Linked DNA regions of Homo sapiens. The protein of the gene in region 4 purifies or fractionates together with the protein of the main gene of each other region. This does not show direct contact. Each region holds a gene or a part of one and is shown on either strand. Other genes may lie near its edges.

Region 1 (4,709 bases), on a different chromosome or scaffold from region 4:
GGAGACAGGCATTTCATGTGCCTGGAGAAGACTGTTTTTTTTTTGTTTTGTTTTGTTTTGTTTTGAGACAGAGTCTTGCTCTGTTGCCCAGGCTGGAGTGCAGTGGTGCGATCTTGGCTCACTGCAACCTCTGCTTCCTGGGTTCAGGTGATTCTTCTGTCTCAGCCTCCTGAGCAGCTGAGACTACAGGTGCACACCACCATGCCTGGCTAATTTTTTGTAGTTTTAGTAGAGATGGGATTTCACCATGCTGGCCAGGCTGGTCTTGAACTCCTGACCTTGTGCTCTACCCGCCTTGGCCTCCCCAGGTGCTGAGATTACAGGCGTGAGCCACCGCACCCAGCCAAGAAGACTGTTTTAAAGCTTCGGGTGAACTCTAGTCCCTGTCTTCATGCCCGCTGGCAGTAGGTTGAAAACCATTGTCTCTGTCAGTTATTGAGTATGAGTTGAGCATGATGTATGTGCCAGGTGCTCACGTGGTGAGGGGAGGAAGAGTGCTGTAGTGTTGAGGGGCACAAGGTAGTTGCAGACGCAGCATCTTCAAGTCATTTTTTCTTCTTGTGACCATGTAGCTACTATGCTTGTTAACATTTAGTGAAGCTTGCATGGCTCTGTGCTCAGCCATTCCGTCCTCACAACATCCTTAGCAGCAACTTTACTGTTGTTCTCCTCATCTAACAAAGGAGGAGGCAGGCACAGAGGGGCTAAGTCACTTCTAAAGTACCCACGGCTGGTGAGAGGTGGCATGAGGATGGATGGAGTTGGGATCGAGCCCCGGCAGCGTGCTCCATGGCCTGTGCGTTCACAGGAAAGGAAACTCATACAATTATTATTTCAAATCAAGAGTTTTAAGTGAGTTAGTTTTAGTTTTTTATTTTGGGTGGGGGTGAGGTAGGAAGTAGAATTTCACTGAATGCTCTGGAAACTTGTTTATGCTTTGTAGAAAATAGTCTGCAAATTTAGAACTAAACTGGAGGACAGCTGTCTATGTGAAGTTTAGGCATAACTATTTCTGCCATGCTTGAATTTCTGTTAGGTGATATAGGTTGACACTCTGGAACTTCTTTTTTCCTAGCAGCAAAGTTTGGTAAATTTTCCGGCAAAGATGATGGCTCTAGTTTTAAAGCAGCGTTGCTGTCAGGCCCTCCTGGTGTTGGCAAAACCACCACAGCTTCCCTGGTGTGTCAGGTGGGTGCGTTGTCACAGTGTGGTCGGACAGATAACCTCGAGTGGTCATGGCTAGGAGATAAAAGTGTGTACCCACATCTGTGCGTGTGCATGTGTGTGTGTGGTGTCTATATATAAACTGTGTTTATTTTTCTAAGATAAAACCTTTAGAACCTGTTTTGGTTCTGGCGATGTTTGTAATTTTAATCCTTTTAAAATATTGGTAATTAAAGTAATAAGCAATACTTACCAACGAGCGAGGCAGTGTACTAAGCACGTGGGTGTATTATAGATAACAAAAACATGTATTCTAGACTCTGAAAGATGCAAATATCTTAATGCCTTTGAATAATTCTGTGTACTGAATAATTATCTGTACTGTCATCATCCACATGTGTCAAATGAAATAGGCTTAGGGAGGAGGGTGGAGGCCCAGTTTTCACCCGGTAGCGCGACTCAGGGTTCTGCTCTTCAGCACTGTGTGATCCTGCCTTCGTTCCTATTGTCTCTATTGCTACTGAATCCCTGTAGACAATGGGAGAACTTGACTTGCTTAGGCACTAGAGCAGATCAGAGTTCACGTGTTAGTATCACAGTGATGAAATAAGAGATTAGAAATTTATTGCTGGATTTCTCAATCCTCTGCTGCATAAGCTTGTGGTTTCTTTTGTTTTTTTGTTGTATGCATCTGCATAAAATTTAAATAAAATTTTATCTGTTTCCACTGTGTTTATAAACATTAATGAAAAAGCAAAACAACATTTTTTTCCTAGTCCCTACAGTTGTGAACACAACTCTTTTTCTCTCTTTATTATTATCATTATATTTTTTATGAATTAAGGCATAAGGTAATCAGTTTTGGGAAATGAATCAGAAGAATTTGAATTTTCCTGATTTCAGAGGAAAATAGTTTATTGGGATAGTGTCGTGACAAAGAATGATTTAACTTTATAAATTATCTTAGAGAGGATTACTTTTTGATATCTTATTTTATTTTTTTGTTTTGAGACACAGTTTTACTCTGCCACCCAGGCTGGAGTGTAATGGCACGGTCTCGGTTCACTGCAACTTCTGCCTCCCAGGTTCAAGTGATTCTCATGCCTCACCCTCCAGAGTAGCTGAGACTACAGGAACACGCCACCACGCCCAGCTAATTTTTTGTATTTTTAGTCGAGATGGGGTTTCACCATGTTGGCCAGGCTGGTTTCAAACTCCTGACCTCAATTAATCCATCCACTTTGGACTCCCAAAAGCGCTGGTATTACAGGTGTGAGTCAACGCACCTGGCTGGTATCTTATACTAGATTAATTCTGTGTCTGATAGTGAATTGTTGGGATGATTATGTTTAATCCTTTTTTTAGGACTTTAAGAAGTAAATTTAGTAAAATTGCTTGTTTGAATATACTCTTCCAGATTAGTGATTTGTCAGCTGAAGTTTTAAGACCAAACTTATTTGTGTTTGTATGTGTATGTTATATGTATGTATATGATATTCTAAAAATTTCTAATATTGTAAGGCATACTATAGTTAATCTCATTGTCTGTTAGTATCATACTTTATACTTTACCTATGGGTTTTTATATTAATTTTGTACCTTCTTTCTTTCTTAACTGGCCTTTCTTGGCGGGGGTGGTGGAGTTAATTTGTATTGTGCCTTCAGTGGTTTCCAATATTTTGATTAGGAGTTGGGATACAGCTACGTGGAACTGAATGCAAGTGACACCCGGAGTAAGAGCAGTTTGAAGGCGATTGTTGCTGAGTCACTGAACAATACCAGCATCAAAGGCTTTTATTCAAGTATGTGGCTTTTTGACCTCCTGTTGTTGTTATATAAGAAAAATATGTTCATTTCAATGTTCAGTAACCAGTATTGAACACAGGTTGTGTGCCAAGCACCCTACTAAATTCTGGGGCTAACAAGAGAATAAGAAAGCCGTCTGACATCACTCTTATGGGGCAGTACTTACCCTTTCGTAGGTCTTAGAGGTTTCTAAGAATGTGATAAAAATGTGTACATGCACATATTCGTTTTTCATGATTTTAGAGGATTCACAGGTGAATCCTGTAAAGAGAGAAAGAAAATAAAAAACCATGTGTAATGCAGTGTGACTTATTACCTCATTACCTTATTAACCTCACTCTGCATGTATGTAATAAAGTATGTAATACAGAGTGAGGTAATAAGGCCAGCAGATGAAGAAGTAATTATGCTTGGGGCATTGAGTTAAAGGGGTGATAATTGTTTTGAAAGACCTCAAAGAATGAGAAAGAAAACTATTTGGAGGTGGAAGAGGTCACTGCAGGCAAAGGTAGTAAAAGAGAAGACAGTGTGCAAATGCCCACTGTGTTTCAGGTTGTAGCTAGTGGTCCTCTATGGCCAGAGTTCATGGAAAATAAGATGCTCAAGTTAAGGACCGCACAGTGCCTATTTAGAGTCTATGGTGTGTTGTTTTGTCACCTGAATTCTTGGTGCCTTCACATTGTTCAAAATAATTTGCTCAGGAAATGTCACTCTTAGACGTGGCTGGTGGGAGGGTAGATTGGTACAACTCTGGAGAGAGTCCAGCAATATTTCTCAAATTACACATACCGTCTAGCCCAGAAATTCCAATTGCTGGAATTTAGCTATTATTTTATATGTGCAAAGTGGCATATATATGCCATATAGATAAGGATAGTCATTTAGTATGACATAATAGAAAAAAGCTTGGAAGCATCCTATATATTTCATTAATGGTGATTAAGTAAAGTGTGTGATACAAGTGTAGAATGGAGTATTAAATTGCCTTAAAAAATGAAGTGTTCTGTATCTGTAAGATAAAGAATGAATCACCAAAATACATAAAATGACAAAACTGGCTGGGCATGTTGGCTCACGCCTGTAATCCCAGCACTTTGGGAGGCTGAGGCGGACAGATCACCTGAGGTCAGGAGTTTGAGACCAGCCTGGTCAACATGGTGAAACACCGTCTCTACTAAAAATACAAAAATTAGCTGGGTGTGGTGGCGTGCGCCTGTAATCTCAGCTACTTGGGAGGCTGAGGCAAAAGAATTGCTTGAACCCGGGAGGCGGAGGTTGCAGTGAGCCAATATCGTGCCATTGCACTCCAGCTTGGGCAACGAGTGAAACTCTGTCTCAAAAAAAAAAAAATTCAAAACTCAGTTGTATATTTTTATGCACATATGTGTACAATATCTCTTAAAGGACATATAAGAGACTGTTGTTTGCCTCTGGGAAGGGAATTGGGGTCTGCAGGGGAAGGGGTGGCAGGGAGAGTTTCTCTTCTCTGCATATTCTTTTTTTTTTTTTTTCTTTAACAACACTCTGTAGTCCAGTGCTGCATATTCTTGTAGCTTTTGAAGTTTAATATCTGTTACATAATTTTCTACAGAGCAGCAGTTTTTGAGCAATTGTTATTTTGTTTTTGTCTCATCCCATTGCTCCTCAACCTGGGTCAGATGGAGCAGCCTCTTCAGTAAGCACGAAACATGCTCTCATCATGGATGAAGTAGATGGCATGGCAGGCAATGAGGATAGGG
Region 2 (5,503 bases), on a different chromosome or scaffold from region 4:
CATGTAGTGGAATCCAACTCAGGCCCTGGGAAGTTATGAACTTCACCTAAGAGGACTGAGGGCAGAGTTAGGACTAGAATCCAAGTTCTCCAGGTCGTAGTGTGGTCAGGCAAAGCAGTATGAGGAGTAATGGCTCTGGCCTGTAATTGAGCTAGTCACATCCTGACGCTGCCTTTCCAGACCAATGAAACTGGGCCTGTCACTTAATCTTGCTGGGCCAGTTCCATCACCTTAAAAACTAAAATAACATCTACTTATTTCAAAAAAACTGCTGTTCAGCTTAAGTGCTACAATGCATATAAAGCACCTGGCAGAGGAAGCGTCTTCTCAGTAACATTCAACTGTTCTCCAGATGGCCACGTGACAACCATCAAGTTTGGCAGCTGTTTAAGGGAATGACTATTATGAAGGGAAACAAGCTAAAATTGAAAAATTTTTAACAACTGGATGGACAGCATGTGCCAATGCACTCTCTTAATATTTATGAGAAACTGTTAGATTAAAAGAGACTCCAAAAATAAGAAAAAAAAAAAAAAACAGCTGAAAAATGAAGACATTACCATAATTCTTGCTGGGCAGGGTCTTAAACACTGCAATGAGTTCCGCATTGTACCCAATCAACACCTGGAAACGATCGCCGTTCCTTACGCACTTTCCCTTCTGAGAGTTCACTCCTTTTTGGACTGAGGACCCTGACTTCTGCTGGAGTCTTCCTTCTGTCCTGGGCGTTACACTCTCTGAGCTAGAATGGATGTAAGAAATGTTCTGCCCCGAAGGGGAGGCTTTTGCTGTCTTGGCCTCTAACTTAGCATCCCTGGGAGGCTGTCCAGAGGAATGAGCTGGTGTCTCTTGGGAACTCTTTGGTTTGGCCAGAGGCTTATGAGTTGGGTTAGCAAAGGGTGTGAACCTGATCTCAGGTGAAGCCTGAGCATGACCTTGACCTAACTCATAACTCAAGAGCTGTTGTTTAGGGACCTCTGGAGGACTTTGTGCCAAGGGAGGAGAGATTCCAGTGAGAGCCATTTGACTACGTGGACTGTGGCCTGGGCAGGCTGTGGGCATTTCTTCTGGCTTTTTCCATATTCCCTTTGCCTGAAAACTGTGGGAATCATGAGGTCTTTGGTCAGCATTAGATGAGCTACTGAGATTCTGTTGCTTGAAAATGACACCATGGCTCACTGGCTTACAAGACTCCCTTGGGAAATTTTGGGATGGGCCTTGCTTGGCCTGGAATGGGTTGCCAGCAATGGAGGTGCCCGAGCTAGTCCTCTGATGCTGTTCTGCCAATAACTTCTCAGCTCTGCGGGCCAGAGCCTTTTGTCGATTCTCTTCAATCTTTTTCCTCTGCTCCTCTGTAAGAGGCAAGGACATTTTCACAGAGAAATGCTTATGCAGGAATGTCAACCTTTAATTGGAAAGTTGGCAAAAGCTGTGGAAGAAAGTAAGAAGAATGAAATGAACATTACATGTATTAATTGTCATACTCCAACCATGATTTTAACAAGCTTTTGTCCCAGAAAATGCATAATGAGCACAACTAAAGGATGTATTAAAGTTTCTTTTATAATTGCACACACACTGAAATAGTAGGCAGCATATGCTGAAATAAAGACCCTGATCAAAAAGCAAAAAGCAGGTCGGGTGTAATCCCAGCACTTTGGGAAGCTGAGGCAGGTGGATCACTTGAGGTCAGGAGTTTGAGACCAGCCTGGCCAACATGGTGAAACCCCATCTCTACTAAAAATACAAAATTAGCCAGGCGTGGTGGTGCACGCCTGTAATCCCAGCTACTTGGGAGGCTGAGGCAGGAGAATTGCTTGAACCTGGGAGGCAGAGGTTGCAGTAAGCCAAGATCGTGCCACCGCACTCCAGCCTGGGCAACAAGAACAAAACTCTCAAAGAAAAAAAAAAAAGCAAAAAGCAAATCCAAAGCTAAAAAGGCATTTCAGAGGCAATATTTCTCTCCTTCTCACATGGTAACTCACATGGTAACTCAATGGTTCGAAGCACTGCCAAAATGGTGAGTAACTCTTCTGATAACTCACATGGCCCAGCCAAGGTGAGTTATCAGAACCTAAGAAAGTTATGCATTGCAACGTAAATCCATCAGATAATGAGAAAGGTGACATTTTTAACCAGAAAGCATAATAGATTAGACTGAAATAGACCAACCAACCACATACCATGGCGTGACACTTGCTAACATAGTCTTTTTCCAACCTAGAAGAAGGAAAAAAGCATTAGCCTCCCATAGCCTGCACACTGAATTCTCCCCTCACATTCACCCCTTTTTATCATTCCTGGCAAATCAGTCTGCCTGTGGCTCAGTGCAAGCCAGAGCAGCTGGCCTTAGGACCTGACTTCCAACACAACACACGGAGCAACTGACTGACTCTCCTGGGAAAATAAGGAGCAGAAAAAAAAAAATTATGTGTTCACTGTGCAAATTAAGATGCTACATAAAGATGTAAACAAAAAAGAATAAAATTACTCTGTAATCTTACCAGCCATCAATAACCACAGTTGAAATTAATAATTTAGAGTATATAGTTCGGATTTTTTTTCATCCATAACAAAATGGCACATATTTAGGAGATATAAGAATTTATTATAAAGTAGGATCATTGTAAACATTCCATATTGCACCCTGATTATTTTTTTCCATGAATTTACCCGGAACATTTATTTTCCTATGAGCTGAGACATGTTTACAATATTTTAGAAGCAGCGGGCAGGACACACCAATTTGTCTGGCTTGGTTCAGACTAAATAGGCTGCATCTAATGTAATGCTGTGTAACGGTTACAATGATGATGTAGGGGTACTCCAGTAGCATTGCTTAGGCCTCTGGGCAGCTATAGGGTTCAAAGCCTTCCTTCCCTGCTGGGGCTCCCTTTGGCCAGAACCCAACCCCCCTCCCCCCTCCCCCACCACGAAGTATCTATCCCCAGAGAACTTCCACCTTCTCCAACCATTAGCAGTTAGGAAGGGGTGAAGAGGTTAGGAAAAGGTTTTGGAGGTGCACAGCAGAAGCCCTCAGTCTCTCTGGGTAACACACTCCTGCCTAAGTTTCCAACCAGGGATCTCCTGCACCTCCAAACTCCCCAGATCCCAGGCCTGGTAAGCTGTCTCCACTAACCAGAGAGACTCGGCCATAAGACCCACTGATCAGCCCCAAACCATAAATCCATTCCGCCACATGGACGCCCCTCTTCCCCTCTAGGCAGGGACCTCTGCCCCCCGCCCCCCACGCCCCGCATTTCGGGGCGAGCCTCACCCAGCCTCAAGGTAAGCGGGCGCCACGCCCCACTCCCACCCCTACGATCTCCACTTGGATTCACCCTTCCCATTGGCCCACTTCCTCCTCCAGGCTGGCATTGGTCTCGTCCGCCTCCGCCGCCTTCCTGCCAGTCTACCACTTTCTCACCCAGGGAGGCCTAGAACGCGAGCCACATTCGCCCCCGGCCCTGACCCCAGGCGCGACTGCAGAGCCTCCCGAGCGGGACCGGTCTTCCGAGTGGACGGTTAGGCCACGGGTATTCAAGCGCTGCGAGTTCGCCAGCCTTATTGTAGCGGCCAGGCCTGAAGGGCTAGGCCACCGCTGAACTACATTTCCCAGCAGGCAACGCGGCCGCAGTTTCGCTTCCAAAAGTAAGAATGATGAGACGAGAACGCGAGCGGGGCTGCAGTGTCTTCTGGGATTTGTAGTTCGGGCCGGGAGCCTGGCGAGAAACGGGAGCTGCAACGTCATGGGCGGGGCGAAAGTGGTGCACCCTGGAAGTTGTAGTTCTCCAGAGGTTTAGCCAAACACTAGGTCCTGAAAGCCTAGGACGTTGAGGTTTCCAAACCCGGAGTCGGCTGTCTCCAGAGGACATCCCAGACAGCCATACTAACTTGGCAGCTCTTAATAAAAAGTATCTCCCCGGGGCATCCATTCCTGGTATTGCTATACTTGCCATTTAAGCCCCACCCGCTGCGCCCGGCTGCCATCATCGTCATCATTGTAGTCATCAGTCATTGTGTTTAGCATAAATATGAGTTACCTCATTTAACCGCACTACAACCTATGGAACACATTCTTGTCCCCCTTTTACAGAGGGGGAAACTAAGACAGCTATTTGATAATATTTCTCAAGGCTTTATTAAGCTAGCTTGTGATTCTGATTCCATAGCCCCTCCTCTTGAGAGAAGATTAGTCATGAGACTTAAAGAGTCACTTTACCCCATCCTGAGCACCAACATCCTGAGCCATCCTGAGCACCATTGGTGATAAATATAACATTTCTCTATCAGTGTGCATATGAATGTTGCTATTGTTCTATTTTCAAACATGGCTCATTTAAAAACAAACAAGTCTACTAAAGGATTTGAAAAAATGGACCAGACATGCTAAGAAAAAGGAAGCACAGCAATGTGTGTAGTTTGATTTTTTTTTTTTTCATCCTTACCTGTACATGTATGTAAACTCATAAAGGTCTGGGAAGGAAACTTAAAAAGTCACCAAACTGTTCAGGAGCAGAGTGGCATGAAATACACTTTTCAGCTTTTTAATCTCTATTTTTCAGAATGATTTGAATTTTCTAAAATAATAATGTAGAATTTGTGTGACTTTTGAAACAATAAATAATCTCCCTTCTTCCTTCCTTCCTTTTTTTTTTTTTTTTTTTTTTTTTTTTTTTTTTTGAGACAGAGTCTCACTCTGTTGCCTAGACTGAGTGTGGTGGTGTAATCTTGGCTCACTTCAGCCTCTGACTCCTGGGTTCAAATGATTCTCCTGCCTCAGCCTCCCAAATAGCTGGGATTATGGGTGCATGCCGCCATGCCTGGCTGATTTTAGTAATTTTAGTAGAGACAGAGTTTTACCATGTTGGCCAGGCTGGTCTCAAACTCCTGACCTCAAGTGATCCACCTGCCTCAGCCTCCCAAAGTGCTGGGATTACAGGTGTGAGCCACTGCGCCCAGCCCATTTGTCTTAAATGACAAAGACATTGCCTGTCTTAGGGGATCTGTGTGAGGTTTAGTAGTAGAAAGTATTCAAATCTCAGCTCTACCCCTTTTATTGACCTGACATACCCAGTGATTGTGCCTCCATTTTCTCATCTGTAAAGTAAATGTAGAAAACAATACCACCTTGGTAAATCTTGTTATTAGAATCAAAGCAAGGTATTATGAGGGGAAGTGCTTAGTGAACTGTGAAATCCCAGAACAGGTAAGAGAGGGATGTTGTTATTATTTGAGGTAAATCTCTTATATCGTCCGTTTCTCTATACCTAGCGCTCATTTCCTACTGTATAGTGTGAACAGAAACTAGTTAATGAACACCTGTCCCTGCCCTTCCTGTCTCCCAACAGTCAGTTAATTTACTAAGAAAGCTGGGTGCCGTGCACTTGACTCATGTCTGTCACCGATTCATATGACCATCACTTCGCTTTCCTGGGCCTCAGTCGTCTCACCTGTAAAATGATACCCTGCTTTGACATATGCTAAGAGGGCCTGTGGACCA
Region 3 (4,709 bases), on a different chromosome or scaffold from region 4:
CCCAGCTACTTGGGAGGCTGAGGCAGGAGAATCACTTGACCCTAGAAGGCGGAGGTTGCAGTGAACCAAGATTGCACCATTGCATTCCAGCCTGGGCGACAAGAGTGAAACTCCGTCTCAAACAAACAAACAAACAACAACAACAAAATCTATGAATCTATGAGCATTATTAGCACAGATAACACTACAGTCTACAAATTAGGACTGAAAAAAGGAAAAACAGACATTAAAATTTTAAATGCATTAAAAATATAACAGATGCTACCAGTTTAGTCCAACAGGTAAAACCACCCACCTAAGATAAATGAAGCCTCAAATATCATTTAAAAAAAGCATTTTCCCATAAAATAGTTGTAAATGTTTGAAATTGCAATCTGTAAAATAATTTAAGACTCAGGAGACATTAATTCTAAGTATAAATTTCGCTTCCAAGCATCTATACAAACACTTAAATTCTGAGTCTTGGTTTCCTAATTTGTCCCATCAACTTACACAGGTTTGAATGCAAGCTTTATCACTAATTAGCTGCCTGACACTGAGCAAATTACTTAACCATTCTCTGTCTCCATTTCTTCATCTGAAAAAAAAGGGGGCGTGGGAGGGCCTAAAGTAACTTCTTCATGAATATGTTGCAAAGATTTTGAGATATTGTATGTGAAGTGATTACCCCTGTGCCTCACTAGAATGAATATTTATAAATGGTGTCTGTTACAAACATGTATAAATTTTTTTTGAATAATAACAAGGACAAAAATAATACACTGGAAAGCATATTTGAAAAATAACTTTACCAAATCAAAATATTATAATTGTTATTAATCTTTGTACCTGCAGCTTCTGAAATTCTTCTATTTCTTGTCTTGATTCTTCAGATCTCCTCTTTCTGTCTTCTTCTTGCTGAAGCTGGTGAGCCAATTGTAGATCACCAGAACACTGGACTCTATCCATGCCTGTTAGGTATTGTTAATGTTCAGAATAAAATAACTGTTGCAATCAAAGATTATTTATTATTTAATATATGTTTTTAAAATAGAGTAAATGCTGTTATTTGCCATTTATTCATGACTGTGATGATATGGAACTGAGTACAAATTTAGCAAAACTTAGAACTGCTTTGGTAAGGAATAACCTCCATCTAAATGACAACTAACAGTCACTGTTTTTTGTTTTTTGAGACGGAGTTTCGCTCTTATTGCCCAGGCTGGAGTACAATGGTGCGATCTCAGCTCACTGCAACCTCTGCCTGCCAGGTTCAAGTGATTCTCCTGCTGCAGCCTCCTGAGTAGCTGGGATTACAGGTGCCTGCCACCATGCCCAGCTAATTTTTGTATTTTTAGTAGAGATGGAGTTTCGCCATGTTGGTCAGGCTGGTCTCAAACTCCTAACCTCAGGTGATCCACCAGCCTCGGCCTCCCAAAGTGCTGAGATTACAGGCGTGAGCTACCATGCCCAGCCTCACTAAGTGTTTAAAGCTGTGACAAGCACTTTTCATTAATTATATCATTTGATCTTTGTAACAATCTTATGAAGTAGTTATTATTATTTACTGAGGAAACCAGAATTTTAAAACGTTAAGTAACATCCTGCATTGATACTCCTTAACATAACTAAGGCAGATTGATTTTTCAAAGAAATACTAGGGGAGAAAAAAAAAAAAATAAAGAGCATAAAAATACACATTTACAAAGTGCAGGTGTTAGATAATAATTTAATTACAGTTTGGCCCCCAAAAATGGTAAAACTTTGCAACATCTCATCCTGCATCTTCTCTACTCGGTGTCCCCCAGATCCATTTGTCAGTGGCTTCTGGCCACTATCTTGTCTCCTTAACCCCATGACCTGATGGTTTAATTATATCACTGACTATTCTTCCTTTCCTTTCAAAGTTCTCAGCTGCTGCTACATCTTCCTATTTGGTCACCCTTCCATTCTTGGGGATATACAAGTCACACTCAATGTTTAGTGTCCCCTGAGGTTATCTACAGTGATTTACTTAGACCATATCTTTTTCTTATTACCCACTATAGGTTTACACTGTAATATACGTGCTCATACAAAGCCTATCATAAATAAGAGTAAGAATTAGCAGACATTCAGAAACCACCAGAGCAGGGAACTTTTCCATCTTTGCCCCAATAATCTCATATTTGGCTTAGGGTGAGTGAGCAGTAACATTGTCCATGAACACCGATACTGGTACTAGGATCATTGATACTGGACACTAAAGACCTCTGCCTTAACAGAAGCTATCTACGTACCTTAAAAAACTGAAATAGGGTAAAACACAATTGGTTTCTCTTGGGATCTACTTTTTATTTTCGTTCAGTGGGCTTCTAACATTCATATAGGATTTTTCCACTTCTAAGCCACCATAATGATTATTTAAACAATGCCACTATTAAAAAACATAGGGGAGAAAGGAAAACTTTTATAGAATCACAATAAAACCAGTAAGTCATTTAGAAGCTATTCAAGCAGCTCAAGATGCACTGAAAGATGTTTTGGTTATATAGTTCACATTCATTTGTAAAATTTTATGTGCCATATGGCAGTTTTCTAGTTCAACAATTTTCGCTGACCAAATACAATATTCAGATACTTCTAGCTGCTAAAGAAATGGCCTCAACTTGTAAATAAAACACTTTTAAAGGAAAAGATGTATTTTAAAATATTTTTTCCATATCACAAATCTAAAAATTAGATATGTGTCCTAGAAAGTAGAAATTAAATGATATTTTTATCTTCAAACATATAAACATACCTTGCTGAAAGCTGTTTTCTTCCAAATGCAAGTCAACATGTTCCTGAAGAATATGGTAATTTGTACATATGAGCCCACACATAGGACAATCATAGAGTGGTTGATCACAGTCTGTATCAGAGATATAATTAAGTTGTTTTTATTTTTTTATTTTAATTTTTTTCTTTGCTTTTTTTTTTTTTGAGACAGGGTCTCACTCTGTTGCCCAGGCTGGCGTGCAGTGGCACCATCACGGCTCACTGCAGCAATCCTCCCATCTCAGCCTCCCAAGTAGATGGGGCTAAAGGCATGCGCCACCACGCCCAGCTAATTTTTTTTTTTTTAGAGATGAGATCTCACTATGTCGTCCAGGCTGGTCTCAAACTCCTGGACTCAAGTGATCCTTCTGCCTCAGCATCCCAAAGTGCTGGGATTACAGGCATGAGCCACCATGCCCAGCCAAGTTGGTTTTATTTTTATAACTTTTAGATTTTTTCACCCCATGTCAAAGACTGTCTACCACCTATTAACCTTATATAAGTAAAAGCTCTTTGTAGTGGATTTAAAAGCTATTTTTCTACTTCTAGGGTCGAGATAGAAGGCTGAGCATAGCACAAACCTCTCATACCACTCCAAAAAAAAAGGAAATATTAATAATAAATATTCAGATCTGTAGTCAAAACAAGAGAAGCAGAAAGGAAAACCAAAGTGGTAAGTAGGGCCCAGTCTGGATATGGGTTTTTAGGACTAAATTCTCAGCACCCAACAGAGTGGTAAGGTGCTGAACTTAAACATCCAGCATAAAGCTGGGAATTGGGGTAATACTGTCTACACAGGAGCAGGAGATTAAAGAGCTGCATCCATCACATAGCACTGCAGGCAGACAGGTCTAGCTTGCCAAAAACAGAAATTGTTCCTCTATAAGACCAAGACCTAGCAGATAAGGGACATAGAAGAGGGACCCAGAATTGTGCATATACACAGAGTGAAAGCATAGAGCAATCTGTATATGTAAGGCCTGGTCTGAAAGCAGAGACTGTGAACAGCCAGTGTGAAGGAACCATGAAACTGCTTCACAGGGAAGGGATCATATAAAACTCCCATAACAGATGAACACTAAAATTTGAATTGCTAAACTCACTGGGGGCTGCAATGCCAAGAAAAACAGCTAAGAAATCTACAAACTGAAAAAGTTACCTGTGAAGAAATGGAGCTACAGTAATCCATAATAAACTGTAAAATAAGTATGTTCAAAATGCTCACTGAAATAAAGGAGGGAACTGAATCTTTGAAACCAGGACAGAAAGTTACTAAGAAAAAATAGAAAGATGAAGAAAATGAAAATATTAAGATGTAATCATTGGAATAAAAAATTCAATGGCAAAGCTCAAGAGAAAATGAAGTATTAAGTACTCAGAAAATATTTCCAAAAGCAGCAGTAAGAAATAATGGTATACAGCTTCCATAAGTAATGCTGGCGGATGTAAGAGAAGTCTTTCAGCCAGTTCTCTACCATAAAATGCCTTAGAGCCAGAGCCAATGCCAAGGAGGCCTTTGCTTATCGCTTTGATCATCACACTACTGCAAGCCAATCCCTCCACCCCTTCTAGTTTTAAGTGATAACCAACCTTCCTCAACATTAGACCACACTACACCTCATATCCCAGTATACATTTTTTACCACCAGAATCTAAACTAAGCCTCAGAGGTTAGCCATCATCATCCAATGGAGTCATCTAGGGCTGATGTAACCACCAACACTGTTGTGTCAATGAATCCAATCTAATTGTTCAGTGGCAGTGTCTTAACAATCTTTAAATACCTGAAGGACATCTGCTAATCTGACCCAAGCTATTACCCCTCCTATTCTCCCAATACCTACCACAATGCCCTCAGAAATACCATCGGTCATCAGTCAGCTTCTCTATACACAAAATCTTTCTCTGGATATTCACTTCACCTTCTTGAC
Region 4 (4,709 bases):
TTTTTGTAGAGACAGGGTCTTGCCATGTTGCCCAGGCTGATATCGAACTCCCAGCCTCAAGCAATCATCCTGCCTCAGCCTTCCAAAGTGCTGGGGTTACAGGCACAAGTCACTGCGCCTGGCCAATATGAACATTTTTCAGGCTTCTGATATATTACTGCCAAATCATCCTTTGGAAAAATGTGAAACTGTTTTCTTTTTCTCTTTTCTTGAGATGGAGTTTTGCTCTTGTCGCCCGGGCTGGAGTGCAGTGGTGTGATCTCGGCTCACTGCAACCTCTGCCTCCCGGGTTCAAGCGATTCTCCTGCCTCAGCCTCCCGAGTAGCTGGGACTACAGGCACCCGCCACCACGCCCGGCTAATTTTTGTATTTTTAGTAGAGACAGGGTTTCACCATGTTGGCCAGGCTGGTCTCAAACTCCTGATCTCAGGTGACGCACCCGCCTCGGCCTCCCAAAGTGCTGGGATTACAAAAGTGAGCCACTGTGCCCGGCCTTAAACTGTTTTCTTAAACTGCTATTATCGCCTAGTTCTATCATTGAAAACAAAACAAAACAAAATAAAAATCTTAAGGCCGGGTGCAGTGGCTCAGGCTTGTAATGCCAGCACTTTGGAAGGCTGAGGTGGGAGGATGACATGAGGCCAGGAACTTGAGACCAACCTGAACAGCAGAGCGAGACCCTGTCTCTACAATAAAATAATTTTAAAAATTAGCTGGGTGTGGTGGTGCACAGCTGTAGTTGCAGCTACTTGGGAGGCCAAGGTGGAAGGACTGCTTAAGCCCGGGAGGTTGGGGCCACCATGAGCTGTGATGATACCATTGCACTCTATTCTGGGCAACAGAGTGAGACCCCTGTTTCTTAAAAAAAAAAAAAAATTTTTTTAAACCCAACTTTACAACTTTTTTAAAAAGGTTTTTAAAACAGAAAGAAACAATTCTTAAAATGCAAAAAAGCAACAATCTCACATCAGCACACCGTCACATTCCTCTGAAGTCAGCTATACTAAAGCTAGAGAATAGATTATCCACATGAAAGTGACTAAATACGGGCATTGGCTGTGTAAGTACAATTAGTGCTGTCTATAAATGCCGTTTTCAAATTAATTTATCTTCATAGCAGTTAGCAGGCAAGTGTCACTGACGCTATGGCTGTATGACGTGCATGAAAGACTGAATCAGCTGGGGTATCTCAACACCACTTTCTGGCATGAAAAAGCGGATGGATAAGCTCTTCCACACCTACTCATCTGCGGGCTTCCTACCAGGAATGCTTTGTCTCTACTGTTGTGACCACAGTGCCTGGCACACGGGAGGGCCTCCGTGAACACAACCGTGGTTCTCATCTACCGAGGCTACTTACTGACAGGATCATGCGGTACTTGAAATTGGGAAATTCGGTGTCGCACTTCTCACAGCGGTACAATCCATTCTGTTGATCAATCACTTTCTTATTGCAGTCCTGAGTCGGGCAGGCTTGGTACATGCAGTTCTCTTTGCGAAGATACACCACTGTGGCCACAGAACTAAAGTAGTCCGGCTTCGGGAGAAAAGAACAGCATGAGGCACGGAGTCGCGAGCCCGCCCAGGATCGGACCGAGAGGCAGCTCAAAGCCTGCCCTTACGTTTAGGTGGTAAGTGTTTCTACATCCTCAAGATTACACATGATCACAGGGAATCATTCATTCTGTAGTTTTAGAAATCACATGTGCCGAGTACAAAACCCATGAAGGTAATAAGCCAAGTTCTAATAAGCCAAGTTCTGAGGCAGATAATTCCTTCACAATAAAAGAGTTAATCCTAAATTACACTAAGTTAATTAAAAGTGAAATTGTTTTCCTGTTTGCTTGAACACTGTATGAAAGACAAAGATTTGTTCCTCCCGATCCTCTGACCCTCCAAAGGCCACAGATCTAGGAAATACAGAATGCGGACCACAAACACCCAGTGCAGCAACGATCAACCATCCCTCCCGCGCTCAAAACACGGCAGTCGTGTCTAGGCCTAGATTCACCTTTTCCTTGTTTAGGCCAGGGATCAGCAAGCTGCTTCTGTAAAAAGCCAAACAGTAAATATTTCAGGCCTTAGCAGCCATTTGGTCACAGTCTCTGCTGCAACTACAGACACACCTCACTTTATTGTGCTTTGCTTTACTGCACTTGACAGATACGGCATTTTTTACAGATTGAAGACTTGTGGCACCCCTGGGTCAAGTAAATGCACTATTTTCCCAATAGCAGGTGCTCACTTTATGTCTCTGTGTCACATAAAGACAGTAATTCTTGCAAGATTTCAAACTTTTTCATTATATATGTATTTTTTGAGACAGAGTCTCGCTCTGTCGCCCAGGCTGGGGTGCAGTGAGTGGTGTAATCTCTGATCACTGCAGCCTCCACCTCCCAGGTTCAAGTGATTCTCCTGCCTCAGCCACCCAAGTAGCTGGGACTACAGGCGTGCACTACCACGCCTGGCTAATTTTTGTATTTTTTAGTAGAGATGGGGTTTTGCCATGTTGGGTAGGCTGGTCTCGAACTCCAAACCTCAAGTGATCCACCCACCTTGGCCTCCCGAAGTGCTAGGATTATAGGAGTAAGCCACCATGCCTGGCCCTTTTTCATTATTATCATATCTGTTATGGTGATTTTTTTTTTTTTTCTGAGACGGAGTCTCGCTCTGTCACCAGGCTGGAGTGCAGTGGCATGATCTCAGCTCACTGAAATCTCCGCCTCCCAGGGTCAAACGATTCTCCTGCCTCAGCCTCCCGAGAAGCTGGGACTACAGGCATGCACCACTACGCCCAGCTAATTTTTGTATTTTTAGTAGAGACGGGGTTTTAACCACGTTGGTCAGGATGGTCTCGATCTCCTGACTTCAGGTGATCCGCCTGCCTCAGCCTCCCAAAGTGCTGGGATTACAGGAATGAGCCACCGCGCCTGGCCTACAGTGATCTTTAACGTCACTATTGTAGTTGTTCTGGGGTGCCACCAACTACACCCATATAAGATGGGGAACTTATATTGATGAATGTTGTATGTATGCTGACTGATCCTCCAATCAAGTATTCCTGTCTCTCTTCTTTGAATACACAAATAAGAAAGCAAACAGCCTTACTGCTGATATGGAGTAAGCTGTAGTGGTCTAGATAGAATATCAAGCAAGCCACAACATTCTCTTAAGCCAAAGCCTAACCCAGAGCAAGGCCTCACCTTTCTTCAATTCTGTGAAGGCTGAGAGAGGTCAGGAAGCTGCAGAAGAGGCCAGGTGCAGTGGCTCACACCTGTAATCCCAGCACTTTGGGAGGCAGAGGCAACATGATTGCCTAAGCCAAGGAGTTCGATACCAGCCAGGCAACATAGTGAGACCTAGTCTCTACAAAAATCTGTCAGGGCACGGTGGTGTGCACCTGTAGTCCCAGCTACTCCAGAGGCTGAGGTGAGCTGTGATTGCACCACTGCACTCCAGCCTGGGTGACAGAGTGAGACTCTGTCTCAAAAAAAAAAAAAAAAAAAGCTGCAGAAGAAAAGATGGCAGCCAGCAGATGTTGGTTCATGAGGTTTAAGGAAATAAGCCGTCACCATAACAAAAGTGCAAGGTGAAGCAGCAAGTGCTGATGGAGAAGCTGCAGCAAGTTATCCAGAAGATCTAGCTAGGACCACCAATGAAGGTGGCTGCACTCAACAACAGATTTTCAACGTAGACAGAATAGCCTTCTGGAAGAAGATGCCATCAAGAACATTCGTCCTAGAGAGTAGAAATCAATGCCTGGCTTCAAAGCTTCAAAGGAAAGGCTGACTCTCCTGTTAGGCGCGAATGCAGCTGGGGACTATAAGGTGAAGCCAGTGCTCATTGACCATGTCAAAAATCTTAGGGCTCATAAGAACTATGCTAAATCTACTTTGCCTCTGCTTTATAAATAGAATATCAAAGCTTGGATGACAGCATATCTATTTATAGTGTAGTTTATTGAATATTTTAAGCCCACTGTTGAGACCTACTACTCAGAAAAAGAGACTCCTTTAAAAATATGACTGCTCATTGACAATGCACCTGTTCACCCGAGAGCTCAATGGAGACACACAGTACGAGGAGATTAATATATTGACAATGCACCTGTTCACACAAGAGCTCAATGGAGACACACAGTACAAGGAGATTAATATATTGACAATGCACCTGTTCACCCAAGGGCTCAATGGAGACACACAGTACAAGGAGATTAATATATTGACAATGCACCTGTTCACCCGAGGGCTCAATGGAGATGCACAGAACAAGGAGATTAATATTGTTTTCATGCTTGATAACAACATCTATTCTGCAGCCCATGCAAATCAAGGAGTAATTTTGACTTTTTAAGTCTAAGAGACATATTTCATGAGGCGATAGTTGCCACAGTGATTCCTCTGATGGATCTGGGGAAAGTAAATTGAAAACCTGAAAAGGATTCACCATTCTAGATGCTATTAAGAACAGTTGGCTGGGCACAGTCGCTCACACCTGTAACTCCTGGCACTTTGAGAGGTTGAGGCAGGGAGATCCCTTGAGCCCAGGAGTTTGAGAGCAGCCTGGGCAACATGACACAACTCAGTCTCTACAAAAAATACAATTAGCCAGGTGTGGCAGCACCTGTAGTCCCAGCTTGGGAGCCTGGGGAGGTTGAGACTGCAGTGAGCTGTGATCAAGCCAGTGCACTCCAGCCTGAGTGACAGAAT

Evidence for each region. The genes of interacting proteins can lie anywhere in the genome.
Region 1: the proteins of RPA1 (region 4) and RFC1 purify together in Homo sapiens (affinity purification with mass spectrometry; 3 studies listed by BioGRID, with this or other methods). This does not show direct contact.
Region 2: the proteins of RPA1 (region 4) and SMARCAL1 purify together in Homo sapiens (affinity purification with mass spectrometry; 8 studies listed by BioGRID and IntAct, with this or other methods). This does not show direct contact.
Region 3: the proteins of RPA1 (region 4) and ZUP1 purify together in Homo sapiens (affinity purification with western blotting; 4 studies listed by BioGRID, with this or other methods). This does not show direct contact.

The regions. Positions count from the first base shown.
Region 1 is NC_000004.12:39,303,071-39,307,779, reverse strand, and holds part of RFC1 (replication factor C subunit 1), read left to right. Parts: intron 1-1,075; coding exon of another isoform or gene 1,076-1,078; coding exon 1,079-1,188; intron 1,189-2,851; coding exon 2,852-2,966; intron 2,967-4,628; coding exon 4,629-4,709. UniProt on the Homo sapiens protein: Subunit of the replication factor C (RFC) complex which acts during elongation of primed DNA templates by DNA polymerases delta and epsilon, and is necessary for ATP-dependent loading of proliferating cell nuclear antigen (PCNA) onto primed DNA.
Region 2 is NC_000002.12:216,410,573-216,416,075, reverse strand, and holds the start of SMARCAL1 (SWI/SNF-related matrix-associated actin-dependent regulator of chromatin subfamily A-like protein 1), read right to left. Parts: upstream 3,593-5,503; 5' UTR 3,428-3,592; intron 3,312-3,427; exon of another isoform or gene 3,278-3,311; intron 2,221-3,277; 5' UTR 2,184-2,220; intron 1,430-2,183; 5' UTR 1,372-1,429; coding exon 561-1,371; intron 1-560. UniProt on the Homo sapiens protein: ATP-dependent annealing helicase that binds selectively to fork DNA relative to ssDNA or dsDNA and catalyzes the rewinding of the stably unwound DNA. Rewinds single-stranded DNA bubbles that are stably bound by replication protein A (RPA).
Region 3 is NC_000006.12:116,657,975-116,662,683, forward strand, and holds part of ZUP1 (zinc finger-containing ubiquitin peptidase 1), read right to left. Parts: intron 2,873-4,709; coding exon 2,762-2,872; intron 2,396-2,761; exon of another isoform or gene 2,259-2,395; intron 951-2,258; coding exon 829-950; intron 1-828. UniProt on the Homo sapiens protein: Deubiquitinase with endodeubiquitinase activity that specifically interacts with and cleaves 'Lys-63'-linked long polyubiquitin chains. Shows only weak activity against 'Lys-11' and 'Lys-48'-linked chains.
Region 4 is NC_000017.11:1,885,503-1,890,211, reverse strand, and holds part of RPA1 (replication protein A 70 kDa DNA-binding subunit), read right to left. Parts: intron 1,538-4,709; coding exon 1,361-1,537; intron 1-1,360. UniProt on the Homo sapiens protein: As part of the heterotrimeric replication protein A complex (RPA/RP-A), binds and stabilizes single-stranded DNA intermediates that form during DNA replication or upon DNA stress.